3 linked regions of the Homo sapiens genome follow. The protein of the gene in region 3 interacts with the protein of the main gene of each other region in a pairwise test. Each region holds a gene or a part of one and is shown on either strand. Other genes may lie near its edges.

What was found. The genes of interacting proteins can lie anywhere in the genome.
Region 1: the proteins of HIVEP1 (region 3) and CACNA1A interact in a two-hybrid assay, tested with the Homo sapiens proteins (one study listed by BioGRID and IntAct).
Region 2: the proteins of HIVEP1 (region 3) and UTP4 interact in binary tests that used the Homo sapiens proteins (3 or more experiments, as listed by UniProt).

What each region holds. Positions count from the first base shown.
Region 1 is NC_000019.10:13,293,459-13,300,667, reverse strand, and holds part of CACNA1A (voltage-dependent P/Q-type calcium channel subunit alpha-1A), read left to right. Parts: intron 1-11; coding exon 12-118; intron 119-1,314; coding exon 1,315-2,124; intron 2,125-7,209.
Region 2 is NC_000016.10:69,127,485-69,135,669, reverse strand, and holds the start of UTP4 (U3 small nucleolar RNA-associated protein 4 homolog), read right to left. Parts: upstream 3,022-8,185; 5' UTR 2,981-3,021; intron 2,213-2,980; 5' UTR 2,211-2,212; coding exon 2,052-2,210; intron 1-2,051. UniProt on the Homo sapiens protein: Ribosome biogenesis factor. Involved in nucleolar processing of pre-18S ribosomal RNA. Part of the small subunit (SSU) processome, first precursor of the small eukaryotic ribosomal subunit.
Region 3 is NC_000006.12:12,155,293-12,162,501, reverse strand, and holds part of HIVEP1 (zinc finger protein 40), read right to left. Parts: intron 1,064-7,209; coding exon 573-1,063; intron 1-572.

The DNA of each region.
Region 1 (7,209 bases), on a different chromosome or scaffold from region 3:
GTGCCTTTTAGGACGAGCAAGAGGAAGAAGAAGCAGCGAACCAGAAACTTGCCCTACAGAAAGCCAAGGAGGTGGCAGAAGTGAGTCCTCTGTCCGCGGCCAACATGTCTATAGCTGTGTAAGTGCCCCTAATCCCTGGGATGCTACCCTGGCTCCTGAACGTCCACACTATCCCAGGCACAGATTTGGGAAGCAGTGGGGGTGGTCCTTGACAGAACTGAGCTTTAGGAAGAGACACTTCTTGTCCTTCCACCCACTTTCACTCAATAAATATTTGGTTAGCAGCTGTTATGTACCCAGCACTGTTCTAACTTCTGGGGATACAGCATTAACAAGGAGGAAAAAAAAAATCCCACCTGTGTGTAGCCATTCTAGCAAGGGAAGGAGTCAATAAATTAGATAAATAAGTAAATTATATATTGTGTTAGAAGGCGATGGAACTACAGAGAAAGTAGGGGAGGGAAATAGCAAATGCTGGGAGTGAAGAGAGTTGTGATTTTAAACGAAGTTGTCAGGGAAGGCATCACCTAGAATAGGGGTCCCCAGTCCCGGGGCTGTGGACTGGTACCAGGCCGAGGCCTATTAGGAACGGGGCTGCACAGCAGGAGGTGAACAGTGAGCAAGCAAGCATTACCGCCTGAGCTCCACCTGCCGTCAGATCAGCAGGCAGCATTAGATTCTCATAGGAACACAAACACTATTGTGAACGGTGCATCTGAGGGATCTAGGTTGCGTGCTCCTTTTAAGAATCGAATGCCTGATGATCTCAGGTGAAACAGTTTCATCCCAAAACCACCCCCCACACCTAGGTCTGTGGAAAAACTGTCTTCCACAAAACTGGCCCCTGGTGCCAAAAAGGTTGGGGACTGCTCACCTAGAAGGTTACATGGCCTGAAGGAGGTGAGGGAGGAGCCACTGGGGGGCCTGGGGAAGGGCATCCCAGGCAGAGGGAACAGCATAGGCAATGGCCCTGAGGCAGGAACATGCCTGATGTGAAGGAGGCCTGTGTGACTAGAATCGAATAGTAAGTGTGAGGAGGTGAAGGCAAGGAGGTGACAAGCAGATTACACAGGGCCTTCTGGGTCAGGGGGGAGGACTTGGGCTTTTGCCCCTAGCCAGGTGGGAGCCATGGAGGGTTCTTGAGCAGAGGAGGCTGGGACCTGACTCAGATGCTCACAGACTCCTAGCATTCAGTGGGGAGTAGAGGGTGGAGAGCAGGAGTGGGAGGCTGAGATGTGGGTTGGTTCGCCTGGGTCATCCATCCAAGCTACAGTGCCTAGCAATGCTCTAAGTCCTGTGACCATGCCACTGCAGGAAAGAGCAACAGAAGAATCAAAAGCCAGCCAAGTCCGTGTGGGAGCAGCGGACCAGTGAGATGCGAAAGCAGAACTTGCTGGCCAGCCGGGAGGCCCTGTATAACGAAATGGACCCGGACGAGCGCTGGAAGGCTGCCTACACGCGGCACCTGCGGCCAGACATGAAGACGCACTTGGACCGGCCGCTGGTGGTGGACCCGCAGGAGAACCGCAACAACAACACCAACAAGAGCCGGGCGGCCGAGCCCACCGTGGACCAGCGCCTCGGCCAGCAGCGCGCCGAGGACTTCCTCAGGAAACAGGCCCGCTACCACGATCGGGCCCGGGACCCCAGCGGCTCGGCGGGCCTGGACGCACGGAGGCCCTGGGCGGGAAGCCAGGAGGCCGAGCTGAGCCGGGAGGGACCCTACGGCCGCGAGTCGGACCACCACGCCCGGGAGGGCAGCCTGGAGCAACCCGGGTTCTGGGAGGGCGAGGCCGAGCGAGGCAAGGCCGGGGACCCCCACCGGAGGCACGTGCACCGGCAGGGGGGCAGCAGGGAGAGCCGCAGCGGGTCCCCGCGCACGGGCGCGGACGGGGAGCATCGACGTCATCGCGCGCACCGCAGGCCCGGGGAGGAGGGTCCGGAGGACAAGGCGGAGCGGAGGGCGCGGCACCGCGAGGGCAGCCGGCCGGCCCGGGGCGGCGAGGGCGAGGGCGAGGGCCCCGACGGGGGCGAGCGCAGGAGAAGGCACCGGCATGGCGCTCCAGCCACGTACGAGGGGGACGCGCGGAGGGAGGACAAGGAGCGGAGGCATCGGAGGAGGAAGTAAGTGGAGGTGACCTCGAATCCGCAGAATGACGGTAACATTAATAATGACAACAGCCAAAGTAGCACGTGCTGTGTATTTGTTTATAAAAATATATTATAAAATGCTGTATTTGGCCAGGCGCAGTGGCTCACGCCTGTAATCCCAGCACTTTGGGAGGCCGAGGCGGATGGATCACGAGGTCAGGAGTTCAAGACCAGCCTGGCCAAGATGGTGAAACCCCACCTCTAATAAAAATACAAAAATTAGCCGGGCACGGTGGCAGGCGCCTGTAGCCCCAGCTACTCAGGAGGCTGAGGCAGGAGAATCGCCTGAAAACAGGGGGCGGAGGTTGCAATGAGCCGAGATCACACCACCGCACTCCAGCCTGGGCGACAGAGTGAGACTCTGTCTCAAAAAAAAAAAAAAAGTGCTGTATTTGGCCAGGAGCAGTGGCTCATGCCTGTAATCCCAGCACTTTGAGAGGCCGAGGCGGGCGGATCACTTGAGGTCAGGAGTTGGAGAACAGGCTGGCCAACATAGTGAAACCCCGTCTCTACTAAAAATACAAAAATTAGTGGTGGTGCCCACCTGTATTCCCACTACTCAGGAGGCTGAGGCGGGAGAATCAGTTGAACCTGGGAGGTGGAGGTAGGTTGCAGTGAGCTGAGATCGTGCCATCACACTCCAGCCTGGGCAACAGAGCAAGACTCTGTCTCAAAAAAAAAAAAATGCTGTATGTTTTTGTTTTTTTGACACAGGGTCTCGCCTGTTGCCCAGGCTGGAGTGCAGTGGCAGTCATAGCTCAGTGCAGCCTCTACCTCCCGGGCTCAAGCCATCCGCCTCAGCCTCACAAGTAGCTGGGACCACAGACATGTGCCACATGCCTGGCTAATTTTTGTAGAGACAGTGTTTTGTAGAGACAGGGTTTCACTGTGTTTCCCAGGCTGGTCTCAAACTCCTGAACTCAAGCATTCCGCCTGCCTTAGCCTCCCTAAAGTGCTGGGACTACAGGGTTGAGCCACCACACTCAGCCTAATTTTTTTACCTTTAGTAGAAATGAGGCCTGGCTCTGTTGCCCAGGCTGGTCCCCAACTCCTGGCCTCAAGCAATCATCCCACCTCAGTCTCCCAAAGTGTTCGGATTAGAGGCTTCACAGATGGGGAAACTGAGAGATTGAGTGAGCTCCTCAAGGTCATTCCTCTAACCAGTGTCCTTGAACCCAGGCTCTCTGGCACCAGAGGCCTTGAGCATTTCAGGGAAACTATTAAGAGAAGCCCCACTGTCGTCCAGAATTATATAGTCTTCTGTGTTCTTGCTGTGTGACTTTTGCAAAGTGACTTCATATCTCTGGGCCTCACACAATGGAAATAGTGGGATCTAATTGGGTCATTGCCAGGATTGAATGAGGTAATGTATGCAAAGGGCCTGGAAGAGCAGCTGACACATAATAAGTGCTCGGTAAATTTAGAGCATTTTTGGCCATTTTCAGCCAACTCTATTTACCTAATGCTATTCTTTGGAAGTTTGAAAAGCCACTCTGTTGGGAGGCCAAGGTGGGAGGATCACTTGATACCAGGAGTTGGAGACCAGTCTGGGCAATAGAGGCAGACCCCATCTCTATAAAATATAAAAAATTAAACAGATGTGGTGGCATGCACCTGCAGTCCCAACTACTTGGGAGGCTGAGGCAGGAGGGTCACTGGAGCCCAGGATGTCTAGGCTATGATGAGCTATGATTGCACCACTGCACTTCAGCCTGGGCGACAGAGCAAGGCTTTGTCTCAAAAAATAAAATAAAAAATAAAGAAAAAGAAAAGGCACTTTGGGCCGTTAGAATTGAAGGGAGAGCAGAGTTTCAAAGCTTTGGATGCAGCGGGATGTGGTGGCTCATGCCTGTAGTCCCAGCACTTTGGGAGGCCAAGGTGGGAGGATCCACTTGAGCCCCGGAGTTCAAGACCAGCCTGCGCAACATAGTGAGACCTCACCTTTTAAAAATAAATAAAAATGTTAGAAAGCTTTTGAGGCATCTTCCAGGCCAGCAACTTATCCATTCAGAACCAGCATCCTCTTTTTCATAACGACATTTTGTAATACTTTCTAGCAGATGCTATAGTGATTCTGCATATAGGGACTCAACAACTTACCCATTAAAATAGACATCGTAGACATTGTCCTATTACAAATTAACCTGCTCTTAGTCCTCTTTTATATTACCATCAGGGCATAATATTGATTTTTTTAATGATGGGTTTAAGTGATCCTGTTGTATGACATATGAGGTAGGCCAGCACTTCTCAAAATCTAATGTGTATGTGAATCCCCAGGGATCTTGTTAAAACACAAATTGTAATTCCGTAGGGCTAAGGACTCAGTGGAGCCTGAGATTCTGCATTTGCAACGAGCTCCCAGATGAGGCTGATACTACTGGTCCAGGGACCACATTTTGAGTAATGAGACTCTGGAGGACATAGTGAAGTAATTCTGATATGTACACCATACACAAAATCACCATGAAGTGACAGGCACAAATGATGGCTAACTCTGGGTTGTGTGGACAATTCAAACCACATGAGGGGAGTTGCCAGCAGTGTCAAGATGTTCCACAATGTTGAACACCTCTTGGCAAAGTTCCATATACAAAAGAGTCTAGTCTTTCTTCCATTTATTTAATAGTTGCATTGCAGGAAAATGCAATGTATATTAAAAACATACAAAAAATATGTTGTGTTCTTATGTAAAAGAGTTAGGTTTAAACTAAAAGCACAGGATCAGGTGCAGTGGCTCCCACCTGTAATCCCAGTGCATTGGGAGGCTGAGGAAGGAGAATCGCTTGAGGCCAGGAGTTCGAGACCAACCTGGGCGACATAAGGAGACCTCGATCTCTACAAAAGAAGTTTTTTAATTAGCCAGGTGTGGCGGCAGGTGCCTGTAGTTCTAGCTACTTGGAAGGCTGAAGCAGGAGGATTGCTTGAGCCCAGGAGTTCAAGATTACAGTGAGCTATGATTATGCCATTGCATTCCAACCTGGGCAACAGAACAAGTCCTTGTCTCAAAAAAAAAAAAAAGAAAGAAAGAAAGAAAAAACCCAAACAAACAAGCAAACTAAAAGCACAGGTAATTACAAGCAAGATTTTTCACCTCTTTGAGGGACATTAGAAAGTCATGAAGAGGAAAAGATAAGTCTTTCCCATATGGGACTGTCATGTACATGGTAGGGTATTTAGTATAACTGCCTACCATTCTCTAAGTGCCTGCAGTGCCCCTCAATCATTATGTTATTAGGTTTCCACGTAGTTCTACAACAGTTTTCTGAAAACCATTGTTCTAGGTCATTCTTTCGCTTCAATCTTCTCCTATGGGTTTATGCATTCATTCAGTTAGTATTTACTAAGTGCCTACTATATTCTAAGCTCATGCTGTGAGTTCAGTCACACAACTGCAAGTGAAGTGGTCTGAGACATTCTGAGAAATACGACCAAGAAACTGCTCCCAGGGTCTCAGGGCAGGTTTCCAGAGGAGCAATCTGAGAAGGGAGTAGAGTGTTTCAGTCTAACAACAGCATGTGCAAAGGCCCTGGGGTGGACCAGAAGGAGGCCAGTTTGCAGGACATGACTAGTGACGAGAAAGTGACAAAGAAATTGAAGGTGCATTGATGAGACTCTGGGGCTGTCAGTCACTCAGGGGAATGAGAGATCAAAACGGGAGTTTAGGTGGAATAAAGTGTTTACCACAGCACTCTCTGTATAGTAAAGACCAATGAAGAGCCAGGTACAGGCCAGTGTGATGGTTCACGCCTGTAATCCCAGCACTTTGGGAGGCAGAGACAGGTGGATCACCTGAGGTCAGGGGTTCAGAACCAGCTTGGCCAACATGGCAAAACCCTGTCTCTACTAAAAATACAAAAAATTAGCCAGGCGTGGTGGTGGACGCCTATAATCCCAGCTACTCAGGAGGCTGAGGCACAAGAATTGTCCTGCGAGGCAGAGGTTACAGTGAGCTGAGATCACACCACTGCACTCCAGCCTGGGCAACAGAACAAGACTCTGTCTCAAAAAAAAAAAAAAAAAAAAAAAGCCAGGTACAGTGGTATGCACCTGTAATCCCAGCTACTCAGGAGGCTGAGGCAAAGGATTGCTTGAGCCCAGGAGTTCGAGACCAGCCTGAGCATTTAGAGAATGGGAGGCCAGTATACTAAATACCCTACCATGTACAAGACAGTCTCATATGGAAAAGAATTATCCTTTCCTCTTCATGACTTTCTAGTGCTCCTCACACAGGTGAAAAATCTTGCTTATAATTATCTGTGCCTTTAGTTTGTTGGTTTATTTAGGGTTTTGTTTGTTTTTTTTTTTTTTTTGAGGCAGGGTCTTGCTCTGTTGCCCAGGTTGGATTGCAGTAGCATTGCTCATTTTAGAGATGAGCAAGACCTCATGTCTAAAAAAAAAAGAAAGACCAATGATTATTAATTACTCTTGCTATTATTACTAATATTACTGTTATTATCAGCCTTATTAACAGATCTACTGTTATTGAAGGAGGCAGAGTGACAGGGACAAAATGTCTCTCCCTAACAATATGCCAGGAAGAGTTTTTGAAAGACAACAGTAAACATTGGAAACTACAAGAGCAGCAAAGCCTGGTTGTGAAAGGCAAGGACTTTGGGGCAGGCAGTCACATTCCTGCCCTATCACTTCCAGGCTGTGTGACTTTCAGAATTTCACTCCTCTCTGGGCCTCCATTTCCTCATCTATAAAATGAAGATAAGAATAGTAGCTACCTCCTTCTCTGGGTATAAGATTTAACTGAGCCGGGCGCGGTGGCTCATGCCTGTAATCCCAGCACTTTGGGAGGCCGAGGTGAGCGGATCACAAGGTCATGAGTTCAAGACCATCCTGGCTAATATGGTGAAACCCCATCTCTACTAAAAATACCAAAAAAAAAAAAAATTAGCCGGGCGTAGGTGGTGCACGCCTGTAGTCCCAGCTACTCGGGAGGCTGAGGTAGGAGAATGGTGTAAAACCCGGGAGGCGGAGCTTGCAGTGAGCCGAGATCGCACCACTGCACTCCAGCCGGGGAGACAGAGCGAGACTCCATCTCAAAAA
Region 2 (8,185 bases), on a different chromosome or scaffold from region 3:
ATCTTGGCTCAATGTAGCCTCAACCTCCTGAGCTCAAGCGATCCTTCCGCCTCAACCCTCCAAGTAGCTGGAACTATGGGCATACAACACCACACCTATCTAATTTATTTATTTATTTTTTTAGGGATGGGGTCTCACTATGTTGCCCAGGGTGGTCTTACACTCCTGGGCTCAAGTGATCCACCTGCCCTGGCTTCCCAAAGCGCTGGGTTTACAGGTGTGAGCCACTCTGCCCTGCCTCTTTTCACTTTAACGTACTAATTTTTTCTTGCTCTGAGAGTCACTGACAGAGCTAAGCAATCGTATCTAGTAGGAAAGGGAATATAGGGAAAGCAGGAAACCAGCCTGAGTTAATTAATTGTTGAAGAATAAAGAAAACAGATGAAGGAGAAAAGAAAATAAGGAACACTAGGTAAGGAATGGTTGACTTATCCATTCAAGAAACATTAAGCAGTGGCTTTGTAGGAGGCGCTTGATAAATGGTGGGAATGCAGATGTGAGTATCACTGACATGGTTCCTATCCTCATAAAATTGGAAGTTCAGCATGGAAGAAAGACATTAAACAAACACACAAATTATATAGTTATAACTGTTACAAATGACAAACAGAAAAATCATAATATGGCCATGACTGTTAAAAAAAAAAAAAAAGAAGAAGAACAAGACCAAGAAAAAGATAATCAGTCTGGTATGAGGGCTCACACCTGTAATCCCAGCACTTTGGGAGGCTGAGGTGGGCAGATCACTTGAGGTCAGGAGTTCGAGACCAGGCTGGCCAACATGGTGAAACCTCGTCTCTATGAAAATAAAAAAATTAGCGAGGCATGGTGGCACACCTGTAATCCCAGCGACTTGGAAGGCTGAGGCAGGAGAGGGAGGCAGAGGTTGCAGTGAGCCAAGATCACGCCACTGCACTCCAGCCTGGGTGACAGAGCAAGACTCCGTCTCCAAAAAAAAAAAAAAAAAGAAAAAGAAAAAAAAAGAAAATCACAGGATGCAATAAGCACACGCCAGCGCATGTTCTTCATACCACAGAATGTAACCCATTTGTGGTGGTCCTGTAGTTTTTACCTTTTGATTAGTTCTTCAGGGGTGAGCTCAGTAAATCATCCCTTTCCACATTTCCTAAACCCACCTCTCAGGGAAGGCAATTCTCTGAATTGCCTTCCCTGAAGGCAATTCAATGAAGGTTCTATGCCTGTGTTTCGGTTTATCATATTTATTTTACAGGTTGGAAACTGTACACTTATCTTTCTCCCACTGGTCTTTGAGCTCCGTAAAGTTAGGGCCTCTGACATTTGTCTTAGTGCCCAGTATTTGCCACTCATTCACCGAGAAACATTTACAGAATGCCTAAATTCCAGGTACCAGGCTGCTGGGCACTGAATTCACTCATTTGCCCATCTACTCATTTATATCACAGCACCCAGTACATAACAGTCATTCAACATGAACTAAGATGTTGCACCCGAAGAAAATCACTAGTCAGTGCCCTTGGAGGGGAGAAGAAAAAGGACTAATAGACCTCTGCATACACCCAAAGGACATTTTACCTAATTTTAAATCTCCTTTACTCCCAAATGTAGACATGTAGGTCTACATTCTCTCAGACAGATGAACTTTGGAATCCATCTTCCCACATCACCAAAAAGTTTCTGATATTAAAACGTGTTATCATTTTTTCTGAATTGACAATGAAACAGTACTGATACTCCCTGCAGGAAATTTTGCTTACCAAAGCTGCAATGGTGTTGAGACTGATATACCAACAATTTCCCTTCCTGTGTCCAAAAGATCCAGCAAACCTCAGTTTCCAATGACAGGCAGTGAGATGTCACATTTCTAGGTAGGACCCTTCTAATCAACATTACACAGATTGAAACTGAGCTTCTCTTATCAGTTAGGAGATCTCAGAAGTTTGGTAGTTCTAAGCAACTTCAGAGGGGCTAGGAAGTCACTCAATCAGTTTGATTATAAAAGACATACAAGCTTCTTGAACTTCAGAAGAAATTAACATCAAAACACCATATCAGACTCCCAAATGACTTACTTTCTCCTGAAAGTAGTTTGCTGACAAGTTATAAATTTCCACAGTGCCATCTGTTCGTGAAACAGCCAATCTGTTTGACTGGTTATTGTAAGCCACACAGCGGATTCCTGATGGAACATAATTAAAGAAACGTACTCGATGGACCTTAAATTCACCCATTCCTAGGGGGCGAAAAGAGAGTCATTATTGCTATATGTTAACTGCAGTATGTCACATATAGTATTCAGTTCCTTAATATCACTGTTCTGGCTGGAAGGCTCCAACAACATCTCCCTGAAGTTCATTTCCAAATGGCTGCTAACAATGCCCCCCACAAGAATTACTCAATCTTCAAAAGCTCAGAATGGCTTGAATAATAAGGAGGCTTCAGCAAAAAATCAAAAAGGGTCCTACTCCATAGCTCCAGAGTTCCTATCTCGGGGCGCCTAGGAATCCGCATTTTAGCAAGCATCTCTCCTCAACTCTATTGCTAAGTTTGCAAACAACAGACCTAAACTGAGGTAGTGACAGTGAGGCTGATGGGGCAGGCAGAACCGAGCTCCTCTTGAGGAAGAAACGACAGGGTTTGACTTAATCTGGCTGCCTGGTCTGACGTCTGTCACTTACCCTACCCCGTCCCCCCGACGCCCGCCAACATATATACTGGCCGAGAGTAGAGACCAGGTCTTGTTCGCCCCTCACTGGCCTAGCTTCAAGGTTAGGAACCCGCAGACAGAGCAAGCGCGTTCGGTCGGGCCGGGGCGTCTGAGGCGCGCGCGGTCTTCGCCTCCCCTTCCCTCTCCCCGAGTCTACAGAGTAGCCCCCACCCCGCCTCGGGACAAGGAGACCCTCGGGACAAGGAGCTCAGCCGGACGCCGACCCTGGGCCGGCCACCTTGTAAGACCCCCCCAGCTCTCGCAGCCGCTTCCCACGCCCCTTCCCCAACTCACCAGCGGCCCCACGCTCCCCTTCCCGGTGCTCGCCTCTCTCCGCCCCGGCCCCACGTGCGCGCGCGCTCTCAGGCTCTGCCCCGGAAGTGCTCCTGGCGCATAGTCGGAAGTGCGCAGGCAGTGCTCGCGGCGGCGGCGACGGCGGCGGGAGGTTCGGTTGTCGCCCGTTGGCCGCGCGGCGCCGCGCTCGGCGGCCGCCATTGCAGGTCAGGCCGCGGGCGGGGGGCACGGGAGGCTGCGGGGAGCGAGGGCCGAGCCGGGATTGGGGGCGAGGGCGCGAGGGAGCGGGAAGCTAGGGAGCCGGGGCCGGGCGGGGCGCGCGGCTCGGAGAGAAGAATGGCGAGCCGAGGGGCGGGGAGCGCGGGCGGGGGAGGGGTGGCCGGGAAGGGGGAGGGCGGCGGGAGGGCGGCGCGGAGGTGGGGGCAAGCCCGGAGGGGCCTCCGGGGTGGGAGGGCCAGGAGTGTGGGGGAAGGGAGCGGTGTGGAGACGGAAGGCGGAGGGAAGGAAGGGAGCGAGCGGGGCGGAGCGGGAGAAGGGCGGAAAGGGTGGCCGAGCGCGGGCGGAGGACGGAGAAGGGGGCGGCGAGGGCCGGAATCTCGAGGTACGTGCGGGAAGGGGCTCTTCCCGGGGTTGGGAGGGAGCCCAGCCCGCTATGCTTGCGGGAGCGGAGTAGAACTGGAACCTAGGAAGTAGCGGGAAGAGCAGAAAGGGGAGTTCGGGGTGGGGGTTAGGACCGTGAGGTTTTGTTCCAGGTAACATTTGTAATCGTGGAGGGGGGAGGCTTCTGGGAGAGGTAATTGGAAGGGTGGTTGGAGAGTCATTCCAGGTTCTTTTGTGGGAGGGAAGCCGAGAGACGAGTGGGGTGGGGTCCTGGAGGAGTGGAGTACTTGAGAACCGGGAACAATTTGGAGAACGAGGGTGGTAGAGAAAGGACGTTTAAAGAGTAATCTTTGGGAAGAGGGTGAACGGTTTGGAAGACCACTCCAGTGGGTGGTGTGGAGGAAGGCGGTTTAAAGAATAGTTTCCCTGGGAGGCAGGAAAAGGGGTTAAAACAGCTTGTAATTTGGAGGGGGGTGGAGAAGAGGGGGGAAGCGGATTGAGAAGTCCCAGAAAGTGGGTGGGACTAGAAATAGGAAGTGTTTGTAGCTCTAGCAGAAAGGGTGGGAGGGGGCCGAGAGGGAGTGGGTGGAGAAGATGGGGGTGGGTGGGAGGAAGAGCACAGAGGGAGACTCTACGCCGGGCTAGAAAGGAAAGGGTTTGGGGGAGTACAGGGGGCCGTACCATTAAGAGGAGGACAGGCTAAGATGGGGCTGCAGAGTAGCAGAAGATGGAGAAAACTGCAGTAACTCAGATCGACTGAAGCCATCTTTTCCACCCATTGCTACAAATACCAGTAATTGATTCCCTCCAACGTGGGAATCCTAAAATGTGATGGGAAGTATCACGTGTATGCATAGCATCCACACACGTTTTTGAACACACTTCACTAATGTAAAGTTTGGAAGCATTCAATTCCACCAACCCTCCATAAGCCCCTTTTTGGAGGGGAGCAAGATTCTCATTTGGAAACAGGATTTTAGACTTAGTAACATAAGCCTTTCAAGAGACAAGATCCCCTTCAAAAGTATAGACCTGTCCCCTTCAGTTACAAAACCACGATAACACTACAAATAAAAATAATCTGTATTCGGTTGTATGTAAAACGTTCTGAGTTGTTCACTTGGTAGAAAGGCACATAGAGACATAGTCATCATATTTAGAGAAATTACCTTCCAGAACTTAATCCCTGAAGCAGTTTGGTGAACCACAACTGCCATGTTTGAATTCTACTGTTATGAAAACTTGATTTTATTCTGATGACCTGCTGCTTTCGTAGAATGCTTTAGTCCGTTATAAACATTAATATGCTAACACAGTGTAGTATTAAGACATTCTATTTGATGAATACTAAGAAAATGCCACCTTTCTCTGGGAAATCGATAGCTTGACCCTGAAGGCTTACCATGTGTCAGACAATGTGCTAAAAGCTTTACATTCATTACTCGTTCTTGCAACAGCCTTTCAAAATAGGTGTTTATGCCCAGTGTATTGTTAGGAAAACACGTGAGGTTAAACTACCCACTGTCACATATGGGATAGGTGGCAAAATCACAGAATCCAGGTCTGTATGACAAGTGAGTGCTTCACTATATTCGTAAACAAAGTATCCACCCTGGGATCAAAAAACAAAAGCTCAATAAATGCCAACTGTTGGCCTAGCAAAAAATAGAAAATTGTGAATATTTACACTCTGAAATAATTGATTTCACCCCAGTTTAGAAAAGAATGTTTAAGGGTTGAGAATTTAAAGGCTTGGTTTCCTGTTTGAAAAAAAAACAAAATTTCTAAAACGTTGTTTAGCTTTATTAAAATTTAGTTATTTGTATTGAGGTTAAACCGTTGAGTCAAAGCCTCTTTTTTGCTATAAGCCATATGTTCGGTTTAATTGGATACATATCACACTTTCTTCTGCCACATTTTATTTTGAAGGATTATGAGGATCATTGCTCAGGCTGTTCTGTTCTCTGTAAGACAGTAATCTTTTAACAATTTAATATTTAACAATTCAGAGACCAGAGGGTAAGAATTAAATTCTGTGGAAGATTAAAATGAATACTTGACAAAGAATGTCCTCTATTCTCTTGACTTTCACATTCAGGAGCAGAGGGTAAAGCTTTGCGTCCTAGAGGTGGCATTGAGTAGATTTTTCTAAAAGTTTCAAAAACTGAAACATCTCAATTGGGTATGATAAAAAGCAAGCTGCTTCTTTGTTTTTAGCTGCCTACCCCACAGATATAATACTTTGGTGGCAAGTTACAAGGTCTTTCCATAGGTTACTTTGCCATTTTGTAAGAGATGCTGTGAGAACGAGGCTAATATTTGTAAAGCAAGGGAAGTTATCATACAGAGGTGCTTTACAGGAGGGGGCTGTGTGAGGAGAACTGCAAGAGGGGCCAGATTGTGGAGGGGTTAGGGTTCATATCCCAGCTCTCCACTTAAGTAGCTGTGTGACCAGTTAACATTTAGCTCCTCTAAGCCTGTTTCCTCATTTGTGAAATGGGAGTGAGAAGACCTTGCTAAAAGCATAGGGTGTCAGGGTGAAATAAGAGGATACAGATAAGTGAACGAGGCTAGCTTGTGAGAAATGAAGCCTTTTGTATTATAAAAATAATGTTCTGCCTGGACTTTACTTTTCTTCCTTTTTTTTTTTTTTTTTTTTTGTGACGGAGTCTCGCTCTGTTGCCTAGGCTGGAGTGCAGTGGCGTGATGTCGGCTCACTGCAACCTCTGCCTCCTGGGTTCACGCCATTCTCCTGCCTCAGCCTCCTGAGTAGCTAGGACTACAGGCACCTGCCACCACGCCCGGCTAATTTTTTGTATTTTTACTGGAGAGGGGGTTTCACTGTGTTATCCAGGATGATCTCGATCTCCTGACCTCGTGATCTGCCCGCCTCGGCCTCCCAAAGTGCTGGGATTACAGGTGTGAGCCACCGCACCCGGCCTCTGCCTGGGCTTTTCTTAAGAAATCATGGTGGTGCTTTGATTTGCCAGTTTTTTTTTTGTTTTGTTTCAGTTTGTCTGTTTTTTGAGATGGAATCTTGCTCTGTCACCCAGGCTAGAGTGCAGTGGCACAGTCTCGGCTCACTGTAACTACCGCCTCCCAGGATCAAGCGATTTTCCTGCCTCAGCCTCCTGAGTAGCTGGGATTACAGGTGAGCGCCACCATGCCTGGCTAATTTTTGTATTTTTCGTAGAAACTGGGTTTCACCATGTTGGTCAAGCTGATTTCGAACTCATGACTTCATGATCTACCCGCCTTGGGCTCCCAAAGTGCTGGGATTATAGACGTGAGCCACCGTGCCTGGCGGGTTTTTTATAATAATAGTTACTAATTTCAAAAGAGAGAGAGAAGCCAAATGCTGGTTAAATAAGGTATATTCTAGAGTGGTCTGATTACAGCCAAAGCTTTTTAGTTTTGGGTAGGGTTCCCATTGTGGGTCAGGATTGATTCTTTGAATGCTGGTGCCTTTTTGAGGGGAAAAAAGTTTCCTTTACTGAGATAAAGTCGTTTGACTAACTTAGGAATACAGAATTTATGTATTGTTTAGTTCATTTAGCTGCGTGAAGGCCCATAAAGATCAAGTAGAAAACTTTTTTCCCTCCTCATGAGATTGGGGACAGGATACATAATTTATTGCAGGGAAAGGTTTGGTTTTCTTTATACCTTCTTATCTTTCCAAGGCTACACATGAGTTGTGGCCTGTGAGTCTGATACCACACTGTAATATAATGAATTTAAATCTTTTTGAAAAGCTACATCACAGAAGTCTCTCCCTGGCTCTGCAGTTAACCTTGTCAACCTAGAATTATTGTTCCTAACGAAAGACATGTTAGTCCTAGCCAAATCTGGGGTTGAACTCTGCTCTTAAGAGATAGTTAGCCGGGCGCTGTGGTTCACGCCTGTAATCCTGGCACTTTGGGAGGCCGAGGCGGGTGGATCATGAGGTCAGGAGTTCAAGACCAGCCTGACTAATAGGGTGAAACCCCATCTCTACTAAAAATACAAAAATCAGCAAGGCGCGGTGGCAGGTGCCTGTAATTCCAGTTACTCGGGAGGCTGAGGCAGGAGAATCCCCTGATCCTGGGCAGCGGAGGTTGCAGTGAGCCGAGATTGCGCCACTGCACTCCAGCCTGAGTGACAGAGTGAGACTCTGTCTCAAAAAAAGAAGAAAGAGAAATTTGGCCGGGCACGGTGGTTCACGCCTGTAATCCCAACACTTTGGAAGGCCAAGGTGGGCAGATCACTTGAGGTCAGGAGTTCGAGACTAGCCTGGCCAAGATGGTGAAACCCTGTCTCTACTAAAAATACAAAAAGTTGCCGGGTGTGGTGGCGGGCGCCTGTAGTCCCAGCTACTTGGGAGGCTGAGGCAGGAGAATCACTTGAACCTGGGAGACAGAGGTTGCAATGAGCTGAGATCGAGCCACTGCACTCCAGCCTGGGCAACAGAGGGAGACACTGTCTCACAAAAAAAAAAAAAAAAAAAAAAAAGTTGCCGGGAGAGCTCTTCCACTGACTCTCTTTTAGTTTCTTGACTTCATGTATAGCGTATTCATCAAATCGTGCCTTCAGATGCTCTTGATAGAGCTGCAATTTCTAAACAAGCCC
Region 3 (7,209 bases):
TGCCTTGAGATAGTTCTTGGGCAGAAAGCTCTCCCAAGCTGCTGTAGCAATGTGATAATTCAAGCAAAGTGAACTTCTTGATGTGTTTTCGGGTCACATTAACTTTGCCATAGAAACTGGTAGCTGTCTTGCCAATGGGGGCAAAGTGCAAAATGTTTGGGTAAGTCAGTGAAAATCCATCATCACATCAGCACCAGTGGAGAAACTGCTCAGAAGGGGCCAGCAGATAAATCAGTTGCGGGACTTGTGTTCGCCACTGTCACGTTTTTTTTTTTTTTTAATTTCAAAAATTTTTCAAAAAGCAAATAAAAATAAATGGGTGTATTTTTCAAGAACCATTTGGTTCTTTCATAGATTTACAATAAAATATCTGAACTGCTTAAGATACTCAACAAGACTCCAAAGGGCAAAAATACCCTCTACCCTTAAATACAAGAAAAAAATAAAGCTATACAAACTGATTTGGCCTAAAAAAATCACTTAAGTGCATTATTTTCTTAAGCCATTAAGTTCTCCATATTTAATAGGTTAAAACGAAAAAAGAAATAAAAGAACAACTGCCAATCATTTACCTGTGTTATAGCAACAGCTTTTCCTGCCATAGAACTTCTCAGAATTTCTTCTGACTCAGGGTAGTCCACAGACATCTGATGACACGGGGACCTGGAAGTGTCTACAGACGGAATTGTGTCGTTTTCATCTCTCGCAGCACGCTGCCTGGCCTTCCCCGGAGAGAGTGTCTTCCTATTGTAGTCAGACTGTGCTGTGCTCAGGACAGTCATTCTGGTGAGCAGCGCCCTGGGCAGAACGTCCATTGGGTCCGTGTGTACCCCAGAAAAGCAATCGGTGATCCTGACATCCTCGTCAGTACTCACAGGGTCCTGAAGGCTACTTCTAGATGGAAGGTGCTGCGGGCTAGCTGTGACTGAGGGTGTGGCTGACAGGACTGATTCAGCCTGGCTGTCCTCATCATCGTCTTCATTTTCATTGTCATCCTCATCTGGGCCATCAGATTCTTCAAGATCATATCCAGATCGCTCATAACTGAATCTCTGTTTTTCATCTAATAAAAACAACCAAGAGGTATGTGATGGAATGCTTTCCAAGTGCACAAGTGCTATTTTAAAAATTTTTTATACGTTTGGCAACTCTGCAAGGATTATAAAAGACAAGGACCCTGCCCACAACGAGCCTCCGCCCTGGCTGAGAAGGCCCTGGGGAAGAATAAGACAGTTGGCCATCAGGATTCAGAGGAGGGCAGCTCTGCGGGAGGGGCCGGGGTCAGGGACGAGGAATGGGAAATGACTCTCAGAAGGGGAATGAGGCAGGTGGAGGGTAATCAAGAAACAAGGAAATGAAGGCCTCTAAGATTGCACTTGAAAATCTTTAAAACACAACTGAACTACATATAAAATTAATAAAGAGTTCAACGCAACTCTTTTCCTGAGCTTTTTCCCTATTTTGTATCTTCCTTTTACTGAACAAATTAAATCAAACACAAAAAACTGATGGCTGTTGGTATCTGTGAGCAACATACATTTTCTTTAGATTTGAATAGTATTATAGATGAGGAAAGAAAAGGACTTTTATCTGAGGAATGTGGGCCCTTTCAAATTACTAGGCCCCAAAGAGGCATTAAGATGAGACAGCAATCACATCCTACTCCACACTTTACTGAAGCTGCTTCCCATTGCCACAGGTAGCTGTGAATTAACCTAGTAATGTGGCACTGGACACTATATCCCACATTCTATAGCTTAACCGTGGACAGGCAGTCACTAATCACTGTTACTTCTGTATATCCATGAGAATTCCTGACAGAACTGTCTAACAGTCTACTCGGTAACACCGGCCCCCCTCCCCTGCCTCCTGTTTTTTTGTTTTTGTTTTTTTCTTTTTGCCTTTAAAAATCTGCCTGTAACAAAGGCCAAGCAAGCAGTTTGGGTGAGTCATCTGGGCAGCTGTCCTTATTCTGGCTCAAGTCAACTCTTTCAACCACACTTTGTGCTTTAGCTTCTTCTTTTGGTTGACACAGGCATGTTTCAATGGTCCTCCGTGTCGTCATATTCACCTAATGTGTAAGCCTTCTTATTTACTCAGAGAGATGCTACAATTTCCTGTCAATTTCTTCTGTGATATGATTCAACCCATTCCTCATAGAAAGGGGGATATTATCTAAAAGTCGTTAGTATCAGCCTCTTAACATCATGTGAAACTGAGTTTAACAAGGAATCTTCAAGATGATCCAGGAAATAGTTTCAAAAATCTCATAAGCTCATGTGGAACTTTTAAACTCTTCACATTTTCAAAATCTTGCAAATTAGAGGCTCTTTCCCACTGAAAGCTTAATAAAATTTAGTTATGGGGGAGGAATGTCACTGAGATATAATAAAGATGACATTAGACAATGTACAGTTTAGCTGTGATACATTCTGCACTTACAGGTATTTTTTTGAAAAGAGACAAACATGTAAACAGAGCAACAAGCAATAGGCTGCCTTTCCCAAATGGCCTAGATATTAATTTTTTACTTTTTCTTTGTATATGACAAAAATGAGTTTAGAGAAAAGCCTTAGAAGACCCATAGAAAAGATTGGAGGGTGATTATTTCTAGGGGATGAAAAGAACTTGACATTTTACATTATTTATCACAAACGTGTGCTACTTTTATAATTAAAAAACTCTAAGATGAAACATGCATTTAGGTTCTGTTAGCATGTGATTTCATAAGGCTTTTGCTTTTAGGGTTCTACTATTATGCTGTAAAATAAGTAATGAAATAAAATAATACCAAAGTATTGACTGGCTCTAGGGGCCTATGCTGGAGACAGAATGTGTGATTTCTGGGTAAATACCCAGACTCCTGCACCTCAGCTACTTCTCTACCTTGCCTATTTTAAAAATTTTTTATAGGTTTGGCAACTCTGCGAGGATTATAAAAGACAAGGACCCTGCCCACAACGAGCCTCCGCCCTGGCTGAGGAGAAGGCCCTGGGGAAGAATAAGACAGTTGGCCATCAGGATTGTTTGGCATTGTAAAATTCGAGTCATCCTCAATTTGACTTGAATTTGCCACATCAGTAGCAAATTAGGTATTTTTTTTTTTTGGAGACGCATCTTCTTTAAAGAAGTAAAATTTGTAAAAAGACTAAAGAGAACTGAATGACTGGGAGAATAAGTTACTGGAGAGAAAGGATGATTTCATTCAAGGCTGCTCTTGCTGTAAAGTCTAACAAGGATGGGACCTGTTTACGTTAAACACACACACAAGCGTGCACGTGCACGCGCGCGCGCACACACACACACACACGTACAGCCTAACTTTAAACTTATTAACTTTTTCCAAACCCATCAATAAGCCGAGGTCCCAGATAATCAACAGCCCAAAATCTAAGGAGACACAAGCTTGTGTCACCGAGGGCAGACACAACAGAACCCCAGTCAGGGGAGTCCCGCTCAAGTATCTGGTTAGAGTCAAGAGTGGGCTGCCAAGATTGTGTGAAACCTCTGAGGGTTACATTCTCACACAGGATCTATGCCATGACCATCACCCAGGTGCTCACAGGAGGGTGGGGTAAGAAGTGTCCGCTGTGTTCCAGATATGGGGGAGAGAAGCAGTAACTCTAGAGGAGTGGCAAGGAACTACACCTGGATCCATCTCCCCTGTCTCCACCAGGAAAACAAAAGACCTATCCTGTGAGGAGAAGGGCGGCACGCACTGTTGTCCTTAGGACACTGCTGAAAACTCACTGCAGTGTGGAAAGGGAACAGGAAAAACATACACATACAACCTGTCTCCTTGGGGAGGGACAGGATTACACAGAAACTCCCACAACACTTGGGGGAGAGGGAGGAGAACTGAGAAGGTCACAGCCCAGAAACCTAAGAAAATGGTGCAGGTACGAGACTGTAACTCAATCGGAACAGAGACAGCACCCCATCCTCCTCCTTGCCCCACAATGTCAAGCTAAGGAGCTTAGCATTACAGGTAACAAAACAGTGCTTGGAGAGAAACAGGAGAACAAGAATGTGCAGAGAGACCCTTTCTGAGGCATAGTGCAAAAGGAAGACCTAAAACTAGAACTGAACAGGTGATGTTCTTGTGATCCAACCCCCAGCCAAAACACAAGGTATCTCTACAGGAACATGAAGCCTTTCCTGCAGTGAGGATAGCTGCCAACAAATCTCTCAAACCTAGCAAACTCCTAACTAGATAAACTCTAACTCCCACACTAAAGGCCTCTAGGAAGGAGAGGCATGCACATTTCTAGGATACAAACAATTTCCATGGGTCTCTACTGTCTTACACAAGATGTACAGCTTTCAACACAAAATTACAAGGCATACAAGAAGGCAAGAAAAAAACATACTTCAGAGAGACAAAGCAATAATCAGAACCACAGTCAGATATGACACCTATGTTAGAAATGACTGAGAATTTAAAATAACTATGGTTCATATTTTGAAGGCTCTAAAGGGAAAGGTAGACAATAACAGATGGGACTTTCAGCTGAGTGCTGACAACTATTAAAAAGAATCCAATGAAAATGGTGCAAATAAAAAATATGGTAACAATATCAAGAAAACTGTTAAATCCAGAATTCTATGCCCATTGAAAATAATTTTCAAAGATGAAAGAGAAATACAGACTTTCTTAGAAAAACAAAAACTGAGGGGATTCATTGCCAGCTGCTTGACCTAGTGGACAATAAATGTTAAACGGAAGTTCCTCAGGCAGAAGGAACACAACATCAGATGGAGGCCCGGATCTACACAAACAAACAAAGAGCAGTGAAAATAGAATAAATGGGGACACAATTTTTTTTCTTATTTTTTAATTGCTCTAAAAGATACCTGAATGTGTAAAACAATGTACTGTGCGTTCACAGTAGATGTAAATGTAAAAAGGTATGGCCACAATAGCATAAAGCACGGAAAGAAGGAGCTGTGTATAAACTGCAGTAAAGTCTATAGGCTCCATGTAAAGCAATGTAATATTATCTGAAGGTAGATAAATACAATTTTTTAAAAGTATAAATAATAAGTCAGTAGAGGAAATAGAACAGAATCATAAAAAACACTCAGTTAATACTAGAGAAGGCATCAAAAGAAAACTGAAACCCAAAAATGAAACAAACAGAAAACGGTTGCCAATATGGTACATTTTAATCCAATTACACAAATAATAACATTAAAAGGGGTGGTCTAACACATAAATTAAAAGACAGAAATGACTAGGACTGAATAAAATGCAAGTCCCATGTATATACTGTATATAAGAAACGCATTTTAAATATTGATATAAAGACATAAGTAGGCTGAAAATAAAAGTTTGGGGAAAGATATACCATAAATCAATAACTAAAATACAGCTGCAGAAACTATACTAATATCAGACGAAGTGGACTTCAGAGCAAAGAATATTATGAAGGATAAACAGGAGCATTACATAATGATATAGGTCATCCCATGAACATAACAATCCTAAGTGTGTACGCAATAGAGCTTCGAAATAAAGGAGCGGAAACTGAAAAAAATAAATCCATAATCAGAGCTGAAGACTTCAATAATCCACTCTCGGTAATTAATGGGACACATAAATAGAAAATCAGGAAGAACATAAAAGACCCGCAAAACACTATCAAGACCTAATAGACATTTATAGAAATGTTCCACTCAACAGCAGAACATACTTTTTATATAAGGGTATGTGGAACATTCACCAGTACATACCATATTCTGAGCTACAAAATAAACCTCAACTATTTAAAATCAGTAGAAACCATACAGAGTGTGTTTTTACATGAAAACAGAATTAAACCAGAAATCAATTAATTGGAGGATATCTGAAAAACCATCAAATTATTGCAGAATTAAAGAACACATGCATGATACTGGTACAAGAACAGACACATAGATCAACGGAACAAAATAGAGAACTCAGAAATAAGACTGCACACCAGCAACCATCTGATCTTCAACAAACAAAAAGAAGTGATGGGGGGAAAGAGTCCCTATTTAATAAACGATGCTGGGAAAACTGGCTAGCCATATGCAGAAAACTGAAACTGGACCCCTTCTTTACAATATATATAAAAATTAACTCAAGATGGATTAAAGACTTAAATGTAAAATGAAAAACTATGAAAACCCTAGAAGAAAATCTAGGCAATATCATTCAGGATACAGTCACGGGCAAAGATTTTATGACGAAAACACCAAAAGGAAAAATTGACAAATGGGGTCTAATTAAACTGCAGAGCTTCTGCACAACAAAAGGAACTATCATCAGAGTGAACACACAACCTACAGAATGGGAGAAAATTTTCACAATCTATCCATCTGACAAAGGTCTAATGTCCAGAGTCTACAAGGAACTTAAACAAATTTATAAGAAAAAAAGTAACCCGATTAAAAAGCAGGCAAAGGACATGAATAGGCACTTCTCAAAAGAACACATACATGCAGCCAACAACATGAAGAAAAGCTCAACACCACTGATCATTAGAGAAATGCAAATCAAAACCACAATGAGATACCATCTCAGGCCAGTCAGAACGGCTATTATTAAAAAGTTAAAAAATAACAGATGCTGGAGAGGTTGCAGAGAAAAAGGAATGCTTTGACACTGCTAGTGGGAGTGTAAATTAGCTCAACCATTGTGGAAGACAGTGTGGTGATTCCTCAAAGACCTAGACCTCTGCAGAAATACCATCTGACCCAGCAATCACATTACTGGGTATATACCCAAAGGAACAGAAATCATTTTACTATAAAGATAACATGCATGCATATGTTCATTCGTAATAGCAAAGACATGGAATCAACCTGAATGCCCATCAATGATAGACTGGATAAGGAAAACGTGGTGCATGTACACCATAGAATACTCTGCAGTCATCAAAAAGAATGAGATCATGTCCTTTGCAGGGACATAGATGGATTTGGAAGCCATAATCCTCAGCAAACTAATGCAGGAAGAGAAAACCAAATACCGCATGTTTTCACTTATAAGTGGGAGCTGAATGACGAAAACACGAGGACACATTGGGGGGAACAATACTCACTGGGGCCTGTCTGTTGGGGGGTGATAGGGGTGTGGGGGAAGAACATCAGGAAGAAATGCTGGGCTTAATACTGAGATGATGAGATGGTTTGTGCAGCAAGCCACCATGGCACACGTTTACCTGTGCGACAAACCTGCACACC